Linked DNA regions of Homo sapiens. The protein of the gene in region 1 interacts with the protein of each later gene in a pairwise test. Each region holds a gene or a part of one and is shown in the gene's direction. Other genes may lie near its edges. The genes, in order: GTF2A1L, NKX2-3 and MAFF.

Region 1 (3,655 bases):
TATTTTAACGTACATTTTACTGACACAGGAAACTTTTTTTTTTTTTTTTTTTTTGAGATGGAGTCTGGCTCTGTCGCCCAGGCTGGAGTGTAGTGGCGTGATCTTGGCTCACTGCAAGCTCCGCCTCCCGGGTTCAAAGGATCTTCCTGCCTCAGCCTCCCAAGTAGCTGGGACTACAGGCGCCTGCCACCACGCCCGGATAATTTTTTGTATTTTTAGTAGAGATGGGGTTTCACCGTGTTAGCCAGGATGGTCTGGATCTGACTTCGTGATCTACCCACCTGGGAAGTGCTGGGATTATAGGTGTGAGCCACTGCACCCAGCCGACACAGGAATATTTAGAAATGAAGACCCAAAGAAACAGGGAAAACTATTTTTCTGGACAGTCATACCGAAGTATGATAGGAGGAAAAAAGGATATGATCTAATGACAATAAACTGGAGGAAACGTAGTAAGGCCTGTTTGTTCAGATTTTTGTGTCTCTGTGTCTTCAGAGATAAGGACACTTATTTTCCTTTGTGTATAGGGTAGGGACCTCTGTAATAAAGGTTTTATGACTTACTTTAAAGGAAGGTCAGATAATCCTTTTATGGCCTGGTTCAGGGGAGAAGGGTGAGGGCAAGGTCAGAAAGACTTTCCTGCTTCTGCCATTTTTTCAAATGTCAGGATGCCAGAACACATATGGGGTAATGTGTTCTGAACCCCATAGATACCTTTTTGCTGCTATGAATAATGCCTCTATGAACATTTGGGTACAGGTTTTTGCGTGGACATATGTTTTCATCTGTCTTGGCATATACTCAGGAGTTGAATTCCTGGGTCATGTGGTAACAGCTTAAGGAACTATTAGACTATTTTCCAAAGTGGCTGTACTATTTTACATTCTTATTAGCAGTGTTCGAGGGTTTCAATTTCTCCACATCCTGGCCAGCACTGGCCATAATCCGACTTTCTAATTCTAACCATTCTAATGAGTGTGAAATGGTATATCATTGCGGTTTTGATTTGTGTTTCCCTGATAACTAATGCGTATTTACATATTTAGCCTTTTTTTTTTCCAGTCACAATTTGAATATATTTAGGGGGAAACAAAGAATAATGTTTTGAATTGCTGTAAAAAGAAATCTTTTTCTCTGAAAATAAGGTCACTTTCTCCACTATAACATTTTATACAAATAGAAAACCGCAATTTAGATGCTGAATACAAATATAAACATAAGAAGGAATAGGGGATAGAAAAGGAACAGTTCTTAGTTTGAAACTTGTTTTAGTTTCTTATAAACAATATATTGCCTTCTATAAAAAAACATTATAAGGTACTTAATTATATATACATTCCATAAAGTCTCATGCAGAATTTTCTAGACCATTATGGATGTGGTATCCTTTGTTTGCCGCAATGTGGGAGATACCTTGTAATTAATTATGTAGTACTTTGTATTTTTGCGGTGTTTTATCATATATTATCTTTTGTTTCTTATAATAACCTTATGGAATAGATAGAGGTGATATTAAATATACACTGCTAACAAATCTAGTATCTGAGAACCCTTCTACTTAGTGAATATTTTAAGAACAGTGGTAAAAAATTAATGGAAAGCAGGGCATTGGGGAACCATTGAAACATTTTAAAAGGGGAGTGATGTAGTCAGAAGATAGCCAAAAGAATGTATCTAAAGGTCAAAGTGGGGTGAGGAACACTGTTATAGTGAATCTTTATGAAAGAAAAACTTTCCAGTGCTGGTCACTGGTTGATTTGTTTCAAATAGTATTGAATGTAACCCAACTCAAGTGAATTGAAAGAACTTTCAGTAGTCTCTTTTAGAGCTTTACTAATTCAGTGTGTTTTATGGGCTTAGCACGCTTTTGTTATGCCACTCTGCTAACTTACTCAGCTTATTTTAAAGGCAGGTAGTATCAGTTCCTCTGGGAAACTATTACAAATGCAGAATCCTGAGTCCCACGCCAGAGTACTGGATAAGAATGTACATTTTAACAAGACTCCAAAATGATTTGTATGGCCGTTAAATTTTGAGAAGCAGTGTTTGGTTTCTTTAGTATATTTTATTTGGATTTGATTAACAGATGGAATTTATCTTTAAAATTTAGAGATTAACAATTGGGGGGAAAACTTTGAAAATATAAACATGTACAGTGCAAAAGGGCTAAATGAAGGCCACTGGTTTACATACTGGGTGAGAATTAGTTAAATGGTATAGATATTTTGTTTCAGAGGCCTAGAGAATGTCTAAAATTAATATAAGGATTTAAATAATAAAGATATTATAGCGAAAATTAATGGTGAAATGAAACCTTTTACTACAGATGGAGGTGTTCTGTGCTACAAATAGGACACTATTTATAGTGGAATGTGAAACCATTTGAATATCCTATATCTTCGTTTGACAGTTTAGCAGACTTGCTTATAGCTGACTTTATCCCTTAGATGCTATACAATGATTAATTTCTAGGTGTGTAGCATGGTTTCTTTATATATACAGAGAGAGATATGTATATATGTGTATATATAGTCTCTTTATATGTATCTATATATCTCTCTATATAATAGTCTATATATATGTACATTTCCTTTGAATAGATAGTGCATACACATGGTTAAAAAATCAAAATACTGTAAAAAGGTATACAATGAAAAGTCTGGTTCACATTCCTTCATCATTTTTGCTTTCTATTAGTAGCTCCTTTTCCTGTTTTGAATGCAAATAAGTAGTTATATTAGTTTTCATCGAATTTCTTTATTCAAATACAAATACAAAAGATAGCATAAATAACACTATATTCTGTACCTTGCTTTTTTTCTTTAAACAACGTATCTGTCAGATCTTCCCATATGAGGAGGCTTTCTTTGTGATGATATTTTAATGGCTGTATAATATCCTATTGTAGGATTACTAAAATTCATTTAACCAATCCTCTACTGATGGATATTTGTGATTTTTCAGTCTTTTGATTTGAACCACTATGTATATAAGACATTTTCATAATGTGTGCAGATATATCTATTAAATCCCCAGAAATGGGATTCTGGGTCAAAGGGCAAATGTACGTGGTTAGGTATTCCCAAAATGCTCTCTAAGAGCATTTTGCCATTGTGAAAGATGAAAAGTGATACCTTGTTGGAATTTTTAACTTTCCATATGTTAAAGGGCCTTTTGTATTTACATTTTGTGAACTGTTTGTTCATAATCTTTGTCTATTTAAAAAATTGGATTATTTGGTCTTATATTTAGTGATCTCTAAGAGCTCAATATTATTTTGGAGAAAATGAGCTTTTTGTTATACACAGAAGTACTTTTTACTCAGTTATTTTCATTGCTTTTTCTTTTCAATATGTAGATTTTGGATCTGTCAATCTTTAATTTTATGTCTTCTGCATTTTGAGCCATGAATAAAAAGTTCTTTCTTACCTCAGAGTTTTAAAGGGAAGCTCATGTTTTCTTCAAGTATTTCATATATATCTATATATCTATATCTATATCTATATCATCTATATCTATATCTATATCTATATACTCAAGTCTTGATTCATTTGGTGTTTGTCTTGGTGTATAATGTAACATATGGTTTCAACTTTTTATTTTTTTTTTTCCAGGTGGCTACTCAATCTTCCTAACATTTTTTAAGAAATCTATT
Region 2 (3,755 bases), on another chromosome or scaffold:
TCTTTCTCCCTTCAACCTTGGGCACCCACTCCTGTCGCCGTTGCGGGACCCGCGTGGCAGCCCTCCACCCTCGTACCCACTCCCAGCCGGTGTCTTATGCCGCTCGGAGGCAATGTCCACCGTCCCTGCACCTTTCACCTGCCCCTTCCAGGTGAGACGGGTCTCTTTCAGCTCCGCCATCCTGACCGCCAAAAAATGCTTGGATTGGCTGGGGCCGGATGAGGACAGCCACGGTTGAGCTGGAACCGTTCCCTATTTTTTTAAGGCCAGCGCTGCACACGGGTCTTTCTGTGGCCCTCAAAGCAGCGCCCGCTGCTCCTCACTGGGCTAGGCCTGGTAGCGAGCAAATGCCTATTGTGGGAGAAGATGGTCCCAGAGTTTCCAGCTCAGAGTTTCCAGAATCTGTGGGGGACTGTATAGACTCCCCCAGAAAACAACCAGGGCCTCATGAAGGTGCCAGAAGGCGTGTAGGTAGAGAAATTTTAAAAGCCTGTCGGAGAGGCAAGGCCTACATTCAGGCTCCTGATTTCAATAGGTGGAAAAGAAGGCTGCCAAGGCTGGGTCACCTCCCTTGTGAGGACAGATCCTGCTCTCAGTATGTGCCACACTCCAGCCACGCACCACCAATGCAGTCAACAAACACTGCTTGACCTCCCATACAGAAAAGCAGTCGTTGACACGTACTGAGCGCTTAACACGCGTGAGGCCGTGCACTAAGATTCTGGCATGTTTTGCCTCATTCAACCCTAGCAACAACCAAAAAAGGTATTACTGCCTTCGTTTTATAGACGAGAAAACAGACTTAGAAACGCCGAAGATCACACACTGACTAGGCCAAGCAAGAGCTGTCGAATACCAAAGTTTAGTCATAACTCTATCTTCCTTTCACATACTGCTCTGTGCGGCTGCTGCCAGGGATACAAGGGCAAAAGCAACCCCGGGACACTGCCCTCATGGAGCTTACAGTCTAACTGGGGCGACCAGGCAGGCACATACAGCTATAGAATTAAGTGGGAAGTGATAAGTGACATGCATGTCCTTTGCTAACACAAGCTGCAGGTTCAGAGCCTGAAAGAGGGGACTTCCGGCTAGACGATCTAGGAGCTCTTCCTTGGAGAACAGTTTCCACTCGTGGAGGCTAAGTGTCAGAAACATGTTCCAAGTGGAGAGAAAGCTTGAGCAAAGGCAACAAGTTGAAAAAGGACATGTCGCCCACCCATAGATAGATAAAACACTGCATCTCCTCGTGGATCCAGCGCCCAGTATTTACCCGCCAGGAAGTTTTCCTGCCCCGCGCAGCAGCTGAAAAAAACACACTCCTGGGGCATCCTTCCCTGGCGTTGGTTCGTGGACAGCAAGCCTCCCAGAACTGGCCTAGGTCGGGAAGGTGCAGCCACGCGGGAATCAATGGTTCAGGAACCGGATCTGTGCAGCCTCGCCCGCAGCGTCTCGGACTTCAGGACTCTATACTAGTCCTTGTCTATTTCTGGTAGAGCCGCAACATCCCACTCGCAGAGAGCAGGGGGCGTGGCCCACATGAGCCAGAACCTATAGGGAGGGAGGTTGGGGCGCCAGCCCCGCCCCCCCAACGTGACGCAAATCTCCCGGACAGAGGCTTAGGAGCCCGGGCCCCAGTCCCTGCAGTGGCTGTAACAAAACCCAGACCCCCAGGTCCCGGCCAATGGAGGCGATTTAGACTGGAGTGGGACCGCGTCTGTCAAAAGCCCGACTCGGCAGCAGCGGCGGAGTCCAGGAGGAGAGCTGGAGCCGCCGCGCTGCCTCCCCGCCCCCGCCGGGATTTATTATTTGGACTGGACAATTAAGTGGCCCTGATGATGTTACCAAGCCCGGTCACCTCCACCCCTTTCTCAGTCAAAGACATTTTGAATCTGGAGCAGCAGCACCAGCACTTCCATGGTGCGCACTTGCAGGCGGACTTGGAGCACCACTTCCACTCTGCGCCCTGCATGCTGGCCGCCGCTGAGGGGACGCAATTTTCTGACGGAGGGGAGGAGGACGAGGAAGACGAGGGCGAGAAATTGTCCTATTTGAACTCACTAGCCGCAGCAGACGGCCACGGGGATTCAGGGCTGTGTCCCCAGGGCTATGTCCACACGGTCCTGCGAGACTCGTGCAGCGAGCCCAAGGAACATGAAGAGGAGCCCGAGGTCGTGAGGGACCGGAGCCAAAGTGAGTAGAGGGGGAAAGAAAACGCACCCGCACACCTGGAGCAATGGCAGAGCGCACACAAACAGCCCACAGACCTTGCCAGCGCAGCTGCCCATCCCTTTACCCTTTGGCTGGGGCCATGCCTCCGCCCTGGTCACCGACAGCTCCACAAAGCGCAGGTACCTGCAAGGGAGCCGGGGTGGAGAGACAAGGACGAGGTGACCCTGACAACTACTCCCCCCAAAAGGGGGAAATGAGGGAAGGGAAGGTGGTTACTGCTGCCCTGATGCTGAGAGGCGACGTGGGCTCAGCGCCTGGGTCCTCATAACTGGCAGTATTTTTGCTCTTCCCCCCGCCCCAAAAGGCTCTTCCCCCAAAAAGGGCAGGAGCCTGGACCTTTTTCGTTTTCCCTCTAGGGTGAGATGAGTTCTCTTAGCCCAGGGCAGCCACCCCTTCTTCTCCGAAAAGACAGCCCAAGCAGCCTGTGTCTCTCGCACCCGCAGGGGCAGGAACTTTGGTGGAGGCCAGCTGGGCGGTTTCCTCCCTTCTCTGCTTGGAGCTCAGCGTCCTTGAACCCGTGGCACTCGGTAGAGAGAGAGGAGATGATCGGAAAGTGCGTGGGAACAATGTCTATTCCGCGCGACCATAGCTCTCACATCCCTAAGGCGCCAGCCTTTTTTGAAAATCCGTAACGTTTTGCTTTGTGTCCCAGGCTGCGGGCCTAATAGAAAACGCGCCGAACTTGAGTCCGAGATCTTGGCTGCTCACATCGGATGGGAAGTGAATTGATAGGGAGATGGGATAATCAAATAAAGTCCCCAAGGAAGTGTATTTAAGAGGACAGAATCACAGTCTTTCCCCAAGAGGCGGTTTGATGTGGCAGAGGCCAAGGCCTATGCTCTCATAGTTCCCAGAGCCGAAAATCGGCATGAAACTGTCTATAACTAGTCAATCAAACTTCATTTTCAAAGTGCACACAGATGTCGTCATAACATTCGCTTGTAGTCTTTTATAAGCCACACACACACACAAGTCCCTGAGCCATGCACAAGCGTTACACTCAGAACAGATTTTCGCGCAACCCATGCCCACCGGCCCACTCATACCAACACGCCTCACACCTTCAGTTATCCTTGGTGGAGTAGAATGCAAACGAGTTTGCAAATACTGTAGTTATTATGTAGTTGCAAGCCTTCATCCTGAAAATAGTCATTAGCACGTCGAGCCGCATATTTAATACAGAGTAATCTCTTCTCTCGCAGATGCTCAAGATCCAAATAAACACGCACTAACTACCCCTCTCCACGAAACGCGCCTCCGCCTGCTAAGGGCGTTCTTTGGGTACTGGGGCTGTCTCAGGGTCCCACAGCGCCAGGAGCCACAAACGTTCCCAAAAGTCCAGCCATTTACTACCGCACGCTCTGCGCAGCCACCAAAAAGGGTCACGGTGCTCCAGGACAGGAGCCGCGGTGCGGCCGGGAACAGCTAAGGACGCTGTTGTTTGCTTCTTCCGCAGAAAGCTGCCAGCTGAAGAAGTCTCTAGAGACGGCCGGAGACTGCAAGGCGGCGGAGGAGAGCGAGAGGCC
Region 3 (2,662 bases), on another chromosome or scaffold:
AACTGGGTGATGCTCTTTCCGATACGGTACGTGTTTATAGGATGCTACAGCTCAGATCACAAAGCATCTTCCTTTGTTTTCTTTTTATTTATTTATTTTTTTTGAGATGGAGTCTCACTCTGTCACCCAGGCTCCCAGGCTGGAGTGCAGTGGCGCAATCTCGGCTCACTGTAACCTCCACCTCCCAGGTTTAAGCAATTCTCCTGCCTCAGCCTCTCAAATAGCTGGGACTACAGGCATGCACCACCACGCCTGGGCTAATTTTTGTGTTTTTGGTAGAGACAGGGTTTTGCCATGTTGGCCAGGCTGGTCTTGAACTCCTGAACTGAGGTGATCTGCCCGTCTCAGCCTCCTAAAGTGCTGGGATTACAGGCGTGAGCCACCGCGCCCAGCCTATCTTCCTTTATTTTCCTTGGCTTCTTATCACTGCCCCCTCCCCTTGGAGACAGATGAGAAAACTCAGGTTCTCATGGCGGAGAACCTGAGAGGATTGGCAAAGTAGATCCTATCAGCTAGAGACAGAGAGGACTGCTGCTTTAAAGGGGACTTTGGGAGATGGTCCCCTTCTCCAGCCCAGAGCAATGACCACTGACCCTCCACGAGTTTTATTCACCTTTTTCTCCCCATTACCAAGTACATGTTTGGCAAAGAGCTCAATAAATAGTTGTTGAAGGAGCATGTGGCTGTCAGGCCTGTGGGAGGGAGGATTAGGAGATGAGAGGCCCTCATTGGTCTAGGGATGGCTGCCCCATCTGCCTAGGGCATGCTGAGTTAGTATGGGGCAGCCCCCAGGAGGTTGGGAAAACTTTCCCAAAACAGAGGTCTAGATGAAGGAGGCCTGGGGAGAGAGGGGACTGGCTGATGTTGTATCTTACGGGGTGCTGGATGGGCTTTGTGTAAAGGCATTTACTGGTGCACATATGCTGTGTGTACTTTTCTGTATGTAGGTTATACTTTAAGAAAAGTTCTGAAAAATTGGCTGGGCACAGTGGCTCACACCTGTCCAGCACTTTGGGAGGCTGAGGCGGGTGGATCACCTGAGGTCAGTAGTTCAAAACCAGCCTGGCCAACATGGCGAAACCCTGTCTCTAAAAATAAAAATAAACTAAAAATACAAAAAATTAGCTGGGCGTGGTGACAGGCACCTGTAATCCCAGCTACTTGGGAGGCTGAGGCAGGAGAATCCCTTGAACACGGGAGGCGGAGGTTGCAGTGAGCCAAGATCGCGCCCCTGCACTCCAGCCTGGGTGACAGAGTGAGACTCTGTCTCAAAAAAAAAAAAAAAAAAAAAAAAAGAAAGAAAGAAAAAGAGAAAGAAAAGTTCTGAAAAATCAAATCAAAGGCACATGTCCAAGCCCCATGTGGAAGAATGGTCAGGAGAGGCACATCTATTCATTTGGTGCACACTTACTGAGCCATCTACTATATACCAGGCACTGATTTAGGCATATTGATGCCGTGGTGAGACAGGGAAGGCCTCTGCCTTCATTGGCTTCCGTTTTGGTGGAGGAGGAGTGGGAAGGAGAAACAAATCATAGATGAGGAACCAAGCATGAGAAATGCAGAAGAGGTGACTGTTACAAGGGTTAATAGGCGGGGTTATGTGATGTGACACAGAGGCGTTTAGCCAGAATGGTCAAAGAGGACCTCCTGAGGAGGTGACATTGGGCAAAGACCTAAATGATGAGGAGTCACCATGGGGCTAGAACAGTAAAGAGCACAGCCTGTGCACAGCTCCCGCGGCTGGAAGGAGCCATTCAAGGAGGCCTGTGGACCAATGTGGAGAGAGGAAGGTGGCAGGTATGAATCAGTTCTAAGATAGCAGAGGCCTTGAATGGCAAGGTAGTGAGTTTGGATTTTATTCTAAATGGGAAACCAAAAACAAAACAGTGACTTTGACCTCCTTTCTACCCTAGGTCTGCAGCCCAGAGGGCACCTTCTGCAAACATGTCTGTGGATCCCCTATCCAGCAAAGCTCTAAAGGTGAGGAGGCAGCCTCTGTCAACCCAGTGAAGCCCTCCCTCCCTGCCCATGCAGAGCCTCCTCATCCCAACTTCCCCTTCTTTCCTGGAATCCCCTGGGTGGCTCAGCAGGCACCAGGCCTTCATGATGCCAAAGGGAAGGGCCACAGCCATGGGCTGGGACCAGGAGGCCTGGGCTCTGGTCACAGGCTGCATGTCCCTGGGGTAGGTCACTTCCCTCTCCAGGCCTCCTTCCCCATCGGGTCAATGTCCCCTGGGGCATTCAAAGGTGCTTTCCGACCTGGGTTTCTCTGGCTGAGTCCAGGGCTTGGCGCTAGGTTAGAATTCAGGCTGAGCCCCGGGGTGGCCTCCTTTTGTGTCCCGATCCTAGTCTGGCCCGGTTTCCCCTTCCCGGATTCCTGCTCCCCTTCGGGGTTTTGGATCAAGTCCACCCACCACCTCGGCGGCTAAGGCGGTGAAAGAGGAACACCGCGGGTGGAGCGGGGGGGCCCGTCCCCAGTCCCCTGGACCTCAGTTTCCTCATGCCCGCAGATCAAGCGAGAGCTGAGCGAGAACACGCCGCACCTGTCGGACGAGGCGCTGATGGGGCTGTCGGTGCGCGAGCTGAACCGGCATCTGCGCGGGCTCTCCGCCGAGGAGGTGACACGGCTCAAGCAGCGGCGCCGCACACTCAAAAACCG

Evidence for each region.
Region 2: the proteins of GTF2A1L (region 1) and NKX2-3 interact in a two-hybrid assay, tested with the Homo sapiens proteins (one large-scale study listed by BioGRID and IntAct).
Region 3: the proteins of GTF2A1L (region 1) and MAFF interact in a two-hybrid assay, tested with the Homo sapiens proteins (one large-scale study listed by BioGRID and IntAct).

The regions. Positions count from the first base shown.
Region 1 is NC_000002.12:48,673,327-48,676,981, forward strand, and holds part of GTF2A1L (TFIIA-alpha and beta-like factor), read left to right. Parts: intron 1-3,655. UniProt on the Homo sapiens protein: May function as a testis specific transcription factor. Binds DNA in conjunction with GTF2A2 and TBP (the TATA-binding protein) and together with GTF2A2, allows mRNA transcription.
Region 2 is NC_000010.11:99,531,300-99,535,054, forward strand, and holds the start of NKX2-3 (homeobox protein Nkx-2.3), read left to right. Parts: upstream 1-1,642; 5' UTR 1,643-1,832; coding exon 1,833-2,190; intron 2,191-3,431; coding exon of another isoform or gene 3,432-3,658; exon of another isoform or gene 3,659-3,659; intron 3,660-3,685; coding exon 3,686-3,755. UniProt on the Homo sapiens protein: Transcription factor.
Region 3 is NC_000022.11:38,211,907-38,214,568, forward strand, and holds part of MAFF (transcription factor MafF), read left to right. Parts: intron 1-1,666; exon of another isoform or gene 1,667-1,777; coding exon of another isoform or gene 1,778-1,800; intron 1,801-1,916; coding exon of another isoform or gene 1,917-1,947; coding exon 1,948-1,983; intron 1,984-2,513; coding exon 2,514-2,662. UniProt on the Homo sapiens protein: Since they lack a putative transactivation domain, the small Mafs behave as transcriptional repressors when they dimerize among themselves.